2 linked regions of the Homo sapiens genome follow. The protein of the gene in region 1 interacts with the protein of each later gene in a biochemical or structural test. Each region holds a gene or a part of one and is shown on either strand. Other genes may lie near its edges.

Region 1 (5,380 bases):
AATAACACCACTGCACTCCCGCCTGGAAGACACAGTCAGACTGTCTCAAAACAAAAAGAAAAAAAAAAAAATGAGGCTGGACACAGCGGCTGATACCTCTGGTCGCAGCTACTTGAGAGGCTGAGACAGAAGCAACACTCGAGCCCAGGAGTTGGAGGCCTGGCGGCTGCAGTGACCTATGACTGCGCCACTGAACTCCAGCCTGGACAACAGAGCAAGTACCCTGTCTCAAAAAAAAAAAAAAAAAAAAAAAAAAAGGCAATAAACCCTACAATGGCTGGCTATGCTCACCACCATGACCACAGCAGCAACCCAAACCCAGCCCTAGTCAGTGAAGATTTAAAAACCCTTTAACGGAGGCCAGGTGTGGTAGCTCACACCTGTAATCCCAGCACTTTCGGAGGCTGAGGTGGGCGGATCACCTGAAGTGGGGAGTTCGAGACCAGCCTGACCAACATGGAGAAACCCGTCTCTACTAAAAATACAAAATTAGCCGGGCATGGTGGCACACGCCTGTAATCCCAGCTACTCGGGAGGCTGAGGCAGGAGAATCGCTTGAATACAGGAGGCAGAGGTTGCCGTGAGCCAAGATCAAGCCACTGCACTCCAGCCTGGGCAACAAGAGCAAAACTCCGTCTCAAAAACAAACAAAACACCCTTCAATGGTCCCCCGTCACCTTCTGCAGAATACACATTCCTACTGATTCAGGCCCTGTCTACCTCCCCACACTCATTCCCACTCACGCTCCTCCACCATGTTTGCTGCAATCACAGTATTCCTGAGGTTAGTTCCCTTCTCACATATTCTAAATGCAAGGTGTGAGACAGTCAGACTTCATAACAATTGTTTAAGGACAACATTCTAAGAGCTAAAACACCACTTACCAGCTGTTAAAGAATGAGGTGTTTTTTTCTGTTATATACCTTTGATAATGTCTCTATGAACATCTTGGCTTATATGGCTTCCCACTCCCAGTTATCCTTAATTGATATGGCAATAGCAGGACCGCTACAGTAGCATTTCTGGGTCAAAGAGCATGAATGGATTCTGATACATACTGCCAAAACAGTTACACAATAACATCAACTGTAATTTGGCTACTTAATTGAAGCTCTCTATTGCCTAAGAAATGTATCTCATAGCACCTTCCTTACCCCACACATACACACTAATTGCTGAAAGAAGCCTACTAACCTGGAAACATCTAACACTGTCAGTTTAATGGACAGATTCTTGTTGTCATCACCCTATCAGTAACACCTCGTAAAGACACATACTTCATTTCCAGCACCTCCTATACTAGCAAGGGACCTACATGTCAGGCACTTCATACATTTAATACCAAGAGAAACTCCACTAGGGAGGGACTATCCTCAGTTTACACGAAAAGAAGCTGAGGCTTGGAAAGGTGAGGTGCCAAATTGAAAGTCACACGGCTAGTAAAACATGCATTCGTGTTTCAAATCTGACTCCTTCTAACCTTTCCCTAGTACCAACACCACTTCACTTCTGGCTGTTTCTACTTGCTCATTAAAGATTCTGTTGCTGCTAGGCTGGGCCTGGGGGCTAACACCTGTAATCCCAGCACTTTGGGAGGCCAAGGCGGGCAGATCACGACGTGAGGAGTTCAAGACCAGCCTGGCCAACATGGTAAAACCCCGTCTCTACTAAAAATACAAAAATTAGCTGGGCATGGTGGCACTCGCCTGTAATCCCAGCAACTGGGAGGCTGAAGCAGGAGAACTGCTTGAACCCAGGAGGCGGAGTTTGCAGTGAGCAAAGATTGCACCACTGCACTCCAGCCTGGGCAACACAGCAAGACTCCATCTCAAAAAAAAACAAAAAACAAAAAACCTGTTGCTGCTATTGGAACAAGTGACAAGCAACAGCTTAGTCAGGGTTGAAATCCTACTGTTCAGCAGCATCTCCAAGAAATCCATTTTGTCTACAAATGGAGTGTGACAATACTCCCTTTTGATGCTGTTCACTATGCAGCCCCAGAGCCCCTAACAGTTCCTGGCATAATAAATATCTGTTGAAAGCATAAACCACCTGTGTTAGGACATGAGCCAAAGAGGTTCACCTTCCCATGGAATGGTACCTGTTCCAACTTAACAGAGTCCATTGATAAAATGATTCACTCAATTTTCATTTAAGTGAAGGCTGTGCTTTTTTAAAGAGACACACAGTCTCACTCTGTTACCCAGGCTAGAGTGCAGTGGCAGGATCATAGCTCACTGCAGTCTCAAACTCCTAGCCTCAAGTGATCCTCCCACCTTAGCCTCTCAAAGTGCTGGGATTATAGGACAGAGGCACCATGCCCAGCCCGGCATGTGCTGTTTAATACAATTTTTGTTAACAAGATGACAAGGCAGTTAAGTTAAACCCAACACGGTATTCTGGAAAAAAAAAAAAGTGCTAAATCAAGGATAGAAAAAAAATAATGAATTTACACAATAAAAAAGAAAATAATTTTGACTAAAGAACCAACCAACCCAGAACTCAATGCCTAGAACAAGACAGACACACACTGAACAGCCTGGTTTCAAATCCTACCCCTATCACAGATCACCTGAAGCTCAGGAGTTTCAGACCAGCCTGGGCAACATGGGGAAACCTCGTCTCTACAAAAACAACAAAAAAAACAAAATTAGCCAGGCATGGTGGTGTGAACCTGTAGTCCCAATTCAGGAGGCTGAGGCAGGAGAATCGCTTGAGCACAGGAGGCAGAGGTTGCAGTAAGCTGAAATAACACCACTGCACTCCCGCCTGGGAGACAGAGTGAGACTGTCTCAAAACAAAAAGAAAAAAAAAAAAAATGAGGCTGGACACAGTGGTTGATGCCTCTGGTCCCAGCTACTTGAGTGGCTGAGACAGAAGCAACACTCAAGCCCAGGAGTTGGAGGCCTGGCGGCTGCAGTGAGCTATCACTGCGCCACTGAACTCCAGCCTGGACAACAGAGCAAGACCCTGCCTCAAAAAAAAAAAAAAAAAAAAAAAGGCAACAAACCCTACAATGGCTGGCTATGCTCACCACCACGACCACAGCAGCAACCCAAACCCAGCCCTAGTCAGTGAAGATTTAAAAACCCTTTAACAAAGGCCAGGTGTGGTGGCTCCCACCTGTAATCCCAGTACTTTGGGAGGCCGAGGCGAGCGGATCATCTGAGGTCAGGAGTTCGAGACCAGCCTGACCAACACGGAGAAACCCGTCTCTACTAAGAATACAAAATTAGCCGGGCATGGTGGCGCATGCCTGTAATCTCAGCTACTCAGGAGGCTGAGGCAGGAGAATCTCTTGAACCCAGGAGGCGGAAGTTGCAGTGAGCCGAGATCTCGCCATTGCACTCCAGCCTGGGCAACAAGAGCGAAACTCTGTCTCAAAAAACAAACAAACAAAAAACTAACAAACACACTTCAATGGTCCCCCGTCACCTTCTGCAGAATACACATTCCTACCAATTCAGGCCCTGTCTACTTCCCCATACTCATTCCCACTCATGCTCTTCTGCATAACCTTCCTCTGGACCTCAGTTTCATCATCCACAAACTAGAAGACAGTGGCTACCTGAGAAACTGTTAATGGAGACAAATTTCCTAGTACATAACAGCAGGCCAGGTCTCTTTTCACTTTTGTAACTGCCATGCATATAGACTACATCTATTCCTTGATATGAAACCAACAAATCAAGTTACTTTAAACACTGCACCCTTTATACAGGTTGAGTATCTCTTATCTGAAATGCTTGGGACCAGAAGTGTTTCAGATTTTAGAATATTTGTATAAACATGATCAGGTATCTTGGGGATGGGACCCAAATCTAAACATGAAATTCATTCACGTTTCCCACACATCTTATTCACATAGACTGAAGGTAATTTTATACAATATTTTAAATAATTTTGTGCATGAAACAAAGTTTTAACTGTGATCCATCACGTGAAGTCAGGTGTGAAATTTTCCACTTGTAACATTAATGTCAACACTAACGGAGTTTCAGAATTTGGAGCATTTGGATTTTTGATTTTGGGATCAGGAGTGCTCAACCTGAATAAGGAAAGACAATGTAGAGAGGTGGTATTATAAACAAGCTAGAGTTCAGTCAAGTTTCAGCACCACAAATTATTTTTGTTTATCAATCCCTATCACCCTTAAAACAGAAAGTTATAAGGAACTATCAAATATACAGGTTTGAGGAAAATAAATATCTGTTTGTTTTAAATGTTATGTTCAGTTTAATACTAGTCTTATAAAACCACAGCCCGAAGACTCATCCAGAAGGTTCTCTCACTTTTAAAAGGCAATCAAGGGATCTATACAACCTGGTGACTATAGTTAACAACAATGTATCACATAATTGAAAAATTGCTGAGAGTAGATGTTAAGTGTTCTTGTCAGAATCAGTATACCACCTAATGTGAATTAACTTGACTTAGCCATTCCACAATGTATAGTACTTCAAAACATCGCATTATACATCATAAATATAATTTTGTGTTAATAAATAATAACTAAAAATAAATAAAAGACAATCAAGTTAAATTATGAAAGGGATACCAGGCAAAAGAATGTTGTAAGTTTTCTAAAGTTCAGGTTCCCTCCCAAGGTCAAAAACTTTAACTGTGTCTACAATTCTAAATCTGAACTGGCAAGCAAATTTTCACCCAGTTAATTGGGTCGAGGAAAAATAAAATAAAATAATTCCCATGATTACACAAATGTTCTTTTATTTATATTAGTCACTGTAACAATCCTATTTATGGATTAATTTCTTTGTACCCCAAACAACTGTTTTCTTATGAAATTTTTAAAGATTTTTGTAACAAAATATAACCTTAAATTCCTAATTTTGAACTGAAAACATCTACTCCATAGCTAGAGTAACTATAAAATTGGGCCATGGCCAGGCACGGTGGCTCACGCCTGTAATCCCAGCACTTTGGGAGACCAAGGCGGGCGGATCACATGAGGTCGGGAGTTCGAGGTCAGCCTGGCCAACGTGGTGAAATTCCATCTCCATTAAAAATACAAAAATCAGCTGGGCATGGTGGCACACGCCTGAGGTCCCAGCTACTCAGGAGGCTGAGGCAGGAGAACTGCTTGAACCTGGGGGGCGGAGGTTGTAGTGAGCCAAGATTGCCCCACTAGACTCCAGTCTGGGCGACAGAGCCAGACCCTGTCTCAAAAAAAAAAAAAAGAAAAAGAAAGGAAAAAAAAATTGGGCCACGTTTGAGAGACAAAGCTAGAGAGTGTAGTCGTACTCCCCAAAACTTTTATATATTTACTCTGTCTTAATAAACTCAAAGGTCCTCAATGTCTTTATGGGAGATAACTGAAGGATTAAAATTAATTCAAATGTAATTAATGTTTTCACAAGA
Region 2 (2,599 bases), on another chromosome or scaffold:
CTGCAGGAAGGCTATGAAAACAGTCGCTGTTACAATGAGATGGCGCTGATCCGCGTGGTGCAGTCCATGACCCAGCTGGTGCGGCGGCCCCCCGAGGTCTTTGAGCAGGAGATCAGGCAACACTTTAGCACTGGTGGCTGGCGGCTGGTGAACCGTATCGAGTCCTGGCTGGAAACCCATGCCCTGCTGGAGAAGGCCCAGGCACTGCCCAACGGGGTGCCCAAGGCCAGCAGCTCGCCAGAGCCCCCAGCTGTAGCCGAGCTGTCAGACTCCGGCCAACAAGAACCTGAGGATGGAGGGCCAGCCCCAGGAGAGGCCTCCCAGGGCTCAGACTCAGAGGGCGGTGCCCAGGGCCTGGCCTCAGCTAGCAGGGACCACACAGACCAGACTTCGGAGACCGCACCAGACGCATCGGTGCCACCCAGTGTGAAACCAAAGAAGCGGAGAAAGAGCTACCGGAGCTTCTTACCTGAGAAGAGTGGCTACCCTGACATCGGCTTCCCCCTCTTCCCACTTTCCAAGGGTTTCATCAAGAGCATCCGGGGTGTCCTGACGCAGTTCCGGGCTGCCCTGCTAGAGGCAGGCATGCCGGAGTGCACAGAGGACAAGTAGCTGCCAGGCACAGAGGAAAGAGCATCACCGTGGGAGAGGCCAGCCGCCGCCTGCTCACTCCCCCCCGGAATCACCCCTCTTCCCATGCCCCTCTGTCCCCACTGCAAACCCACTGCCCTCTTCTCCCCAAGGTGAGTTTGATGCTGAAGTGCAAGAAGTGTGTTGAGATGCTGCCGTTTCTATTTTGAAGCGAGCTTTCAACAGGCGGGTCCCCTGTGGCAAAGAAAATCGGAACCCTGTTGCCGATTTTCCATTTGTCACCCCAGCAGAATGTCCGGCACTTGCTCCCTTGCTGCCCCTTCTCAGGTCAGAGGCGGGTGTTCCAGGGCCTGCCGCGGGGCTCTCTGGGCCGGTTCCCTGCAGACCCGCAGGAGAGCACATGTGCCTTGCATGAAGTGTGGGTTGCGCCAACAATTCCCCTGGTCCCTTTCAACCTGTTTAGTTCAACTCAAGCCTCCCTGTGTCCCAGACCCTCCTGCTGCCACCACCACCCAGGTCCTCCCTAGTCCTCCAGCGTCAACACTATCCCTTGGGAGTTGTAGCTGCTGTCACTGACTCCCGGCTATACATGGCCTGTCGACCACGTTATAGCCCTCAGGCCTGTTGAACTTGCTCTCTAAGAGAGGTTGGGACCAGGCTAGGTTCCGGGTGACGCCCAGGAGAGGTGGTGGCCTTCACACATGCACATGGAGTTGAGGACCAGGGAGCTGCAGGGAAAGCAACAGCTATAGGTGCCTTGCTCTTCTGTCGGAGGCTGCTGGGGGCAAGAGCAGCTGCACAAGGCCAGGGCAAGTGCTAGGGCCCCTCCCCCATCACATGGTCACACTGGGACAGGCGTGCAGCTCACTGAACTCCAAGCGAGCCAGCCCTCTCTTGGACTAGAAGGCCTACTGTCAGCCCTTCGCTTACAAACTGCAGGCTCAATCCGAAGGGGACGGCCGGCGGGGGCTCTCCTAGTGCCCAGAGACAGGCCCAGAGGTTTACAAGTTTTCTAAGCTTTTGATAATGTGAAGCTCCAGGCCGAGAGGATGCTGTTGAGCACATTGCAGCTATGTAATTTTTGGTGTATGTATGTAATATTTAAGGTTGGAAAAAAAACTCAAAAGCAAAGATATTAACTCTTATTAGAAAAAAAGACAAAAAAAAAGCCAAAGCATGATGCGTCTTGTCAGCCTTAAGTGGGCTCCACACCTGTGCTGTGCTGTGACCGCCCAGCCAGCAGAGCTGCGGGAGGATGGAGCCGGACCACACACCGTGGCATTTGGAACCGAGTCGGTATCTTGTTTGAGAAACACCCGGAGTGACTGGTGGGGCTGTGCTTCCCAGTGCATTGTACATGTGGAGATGTGAATGCCTACTGCTTACGATATCTGTATAAAGTGCTGTGTGATTAAACTTTTTTTTACTTGCATTTTTTTTTTTTTTTTTTTTTGTGTTGGCTCATTAGCAAGACAAGGTGACACCATTAAACCTCCCTCTGCCATTCATCTGGGCTCCGTTGCCTTTGTGTCCCTCACACACACCCTTCCTGGGGAAGGAAAGACCTTGTTTGTTGCCAGGGAAGGCATGTGGCAGTGGGTCCTGGCTTTCCTGGCCAGGTGGGGGCCACTGTGAACAGCACCCCCACCCGCCCACACTGCCCTCTGCCTGCCAGACCTGCTTGCATGCCTTTTGTACTTCTTGTCCTGGAGCAGTCCTCTGGCCTCCTCCTGGCCGGTGGTGTGCCCCTCAGGAGCCAGCTTAGAGCAGCCTCCCAGCAGCTGTAGTCTCCAGAGACCTACAACTGACCAGTTCAGCTCCTTCCAGGTTCTGGGAGAGCCGACGTCATAGCACCTGGCGGTGGACAGGTGCCACAACTCCTGGACGCTAAGCCAAAATGGTTGCCCAGTTTAGACTTGGATGGATCCTTCCCTGCCACATTCTTTCCACTCCTGCCTGGCACTCCTCCACAGGGACAGGTAGGGAAAGGAGACAGCTGAGGGAGGCT

The links.
Region 2: the proteins of NAP1L4 (region 1) and UBE2O are reported together in a solved structure, tested with the Homo sapiens proteins (one study listed by BioGRID).

The regions. Positions count from the first base shown.
Region 1 is NC_000011.10:2,981,189-2,986,568, forward strand, and holds part of NAP1L4 (nucleosome assembly protein 1-like 4), read right to left. Parts: intron 1-5,380. UniProt on the Homo sapiens protein: Acts as a histone chaperone in nucleosome assembly.
Region 2 is NC_000017.11:76,388,956-76,391,554, reverse strand, and holds the end of UBE2O ((E3-independent) E2 ubiquitin-conjugating enzyme), read left to right. Parts: coding exon 1-612; 3' UTR 613-2,099; downstream 2,100-2,599. UniProt on the Homo sapiens protein: E2/E3 hybrid ubiquitin-protein ligase that displays both E2 and E3 ligase activities and mediates monoubiquitination of target proteins. Negatively regulates TRAF6-mediated NF-kappa-B activation independently of its E2 activity.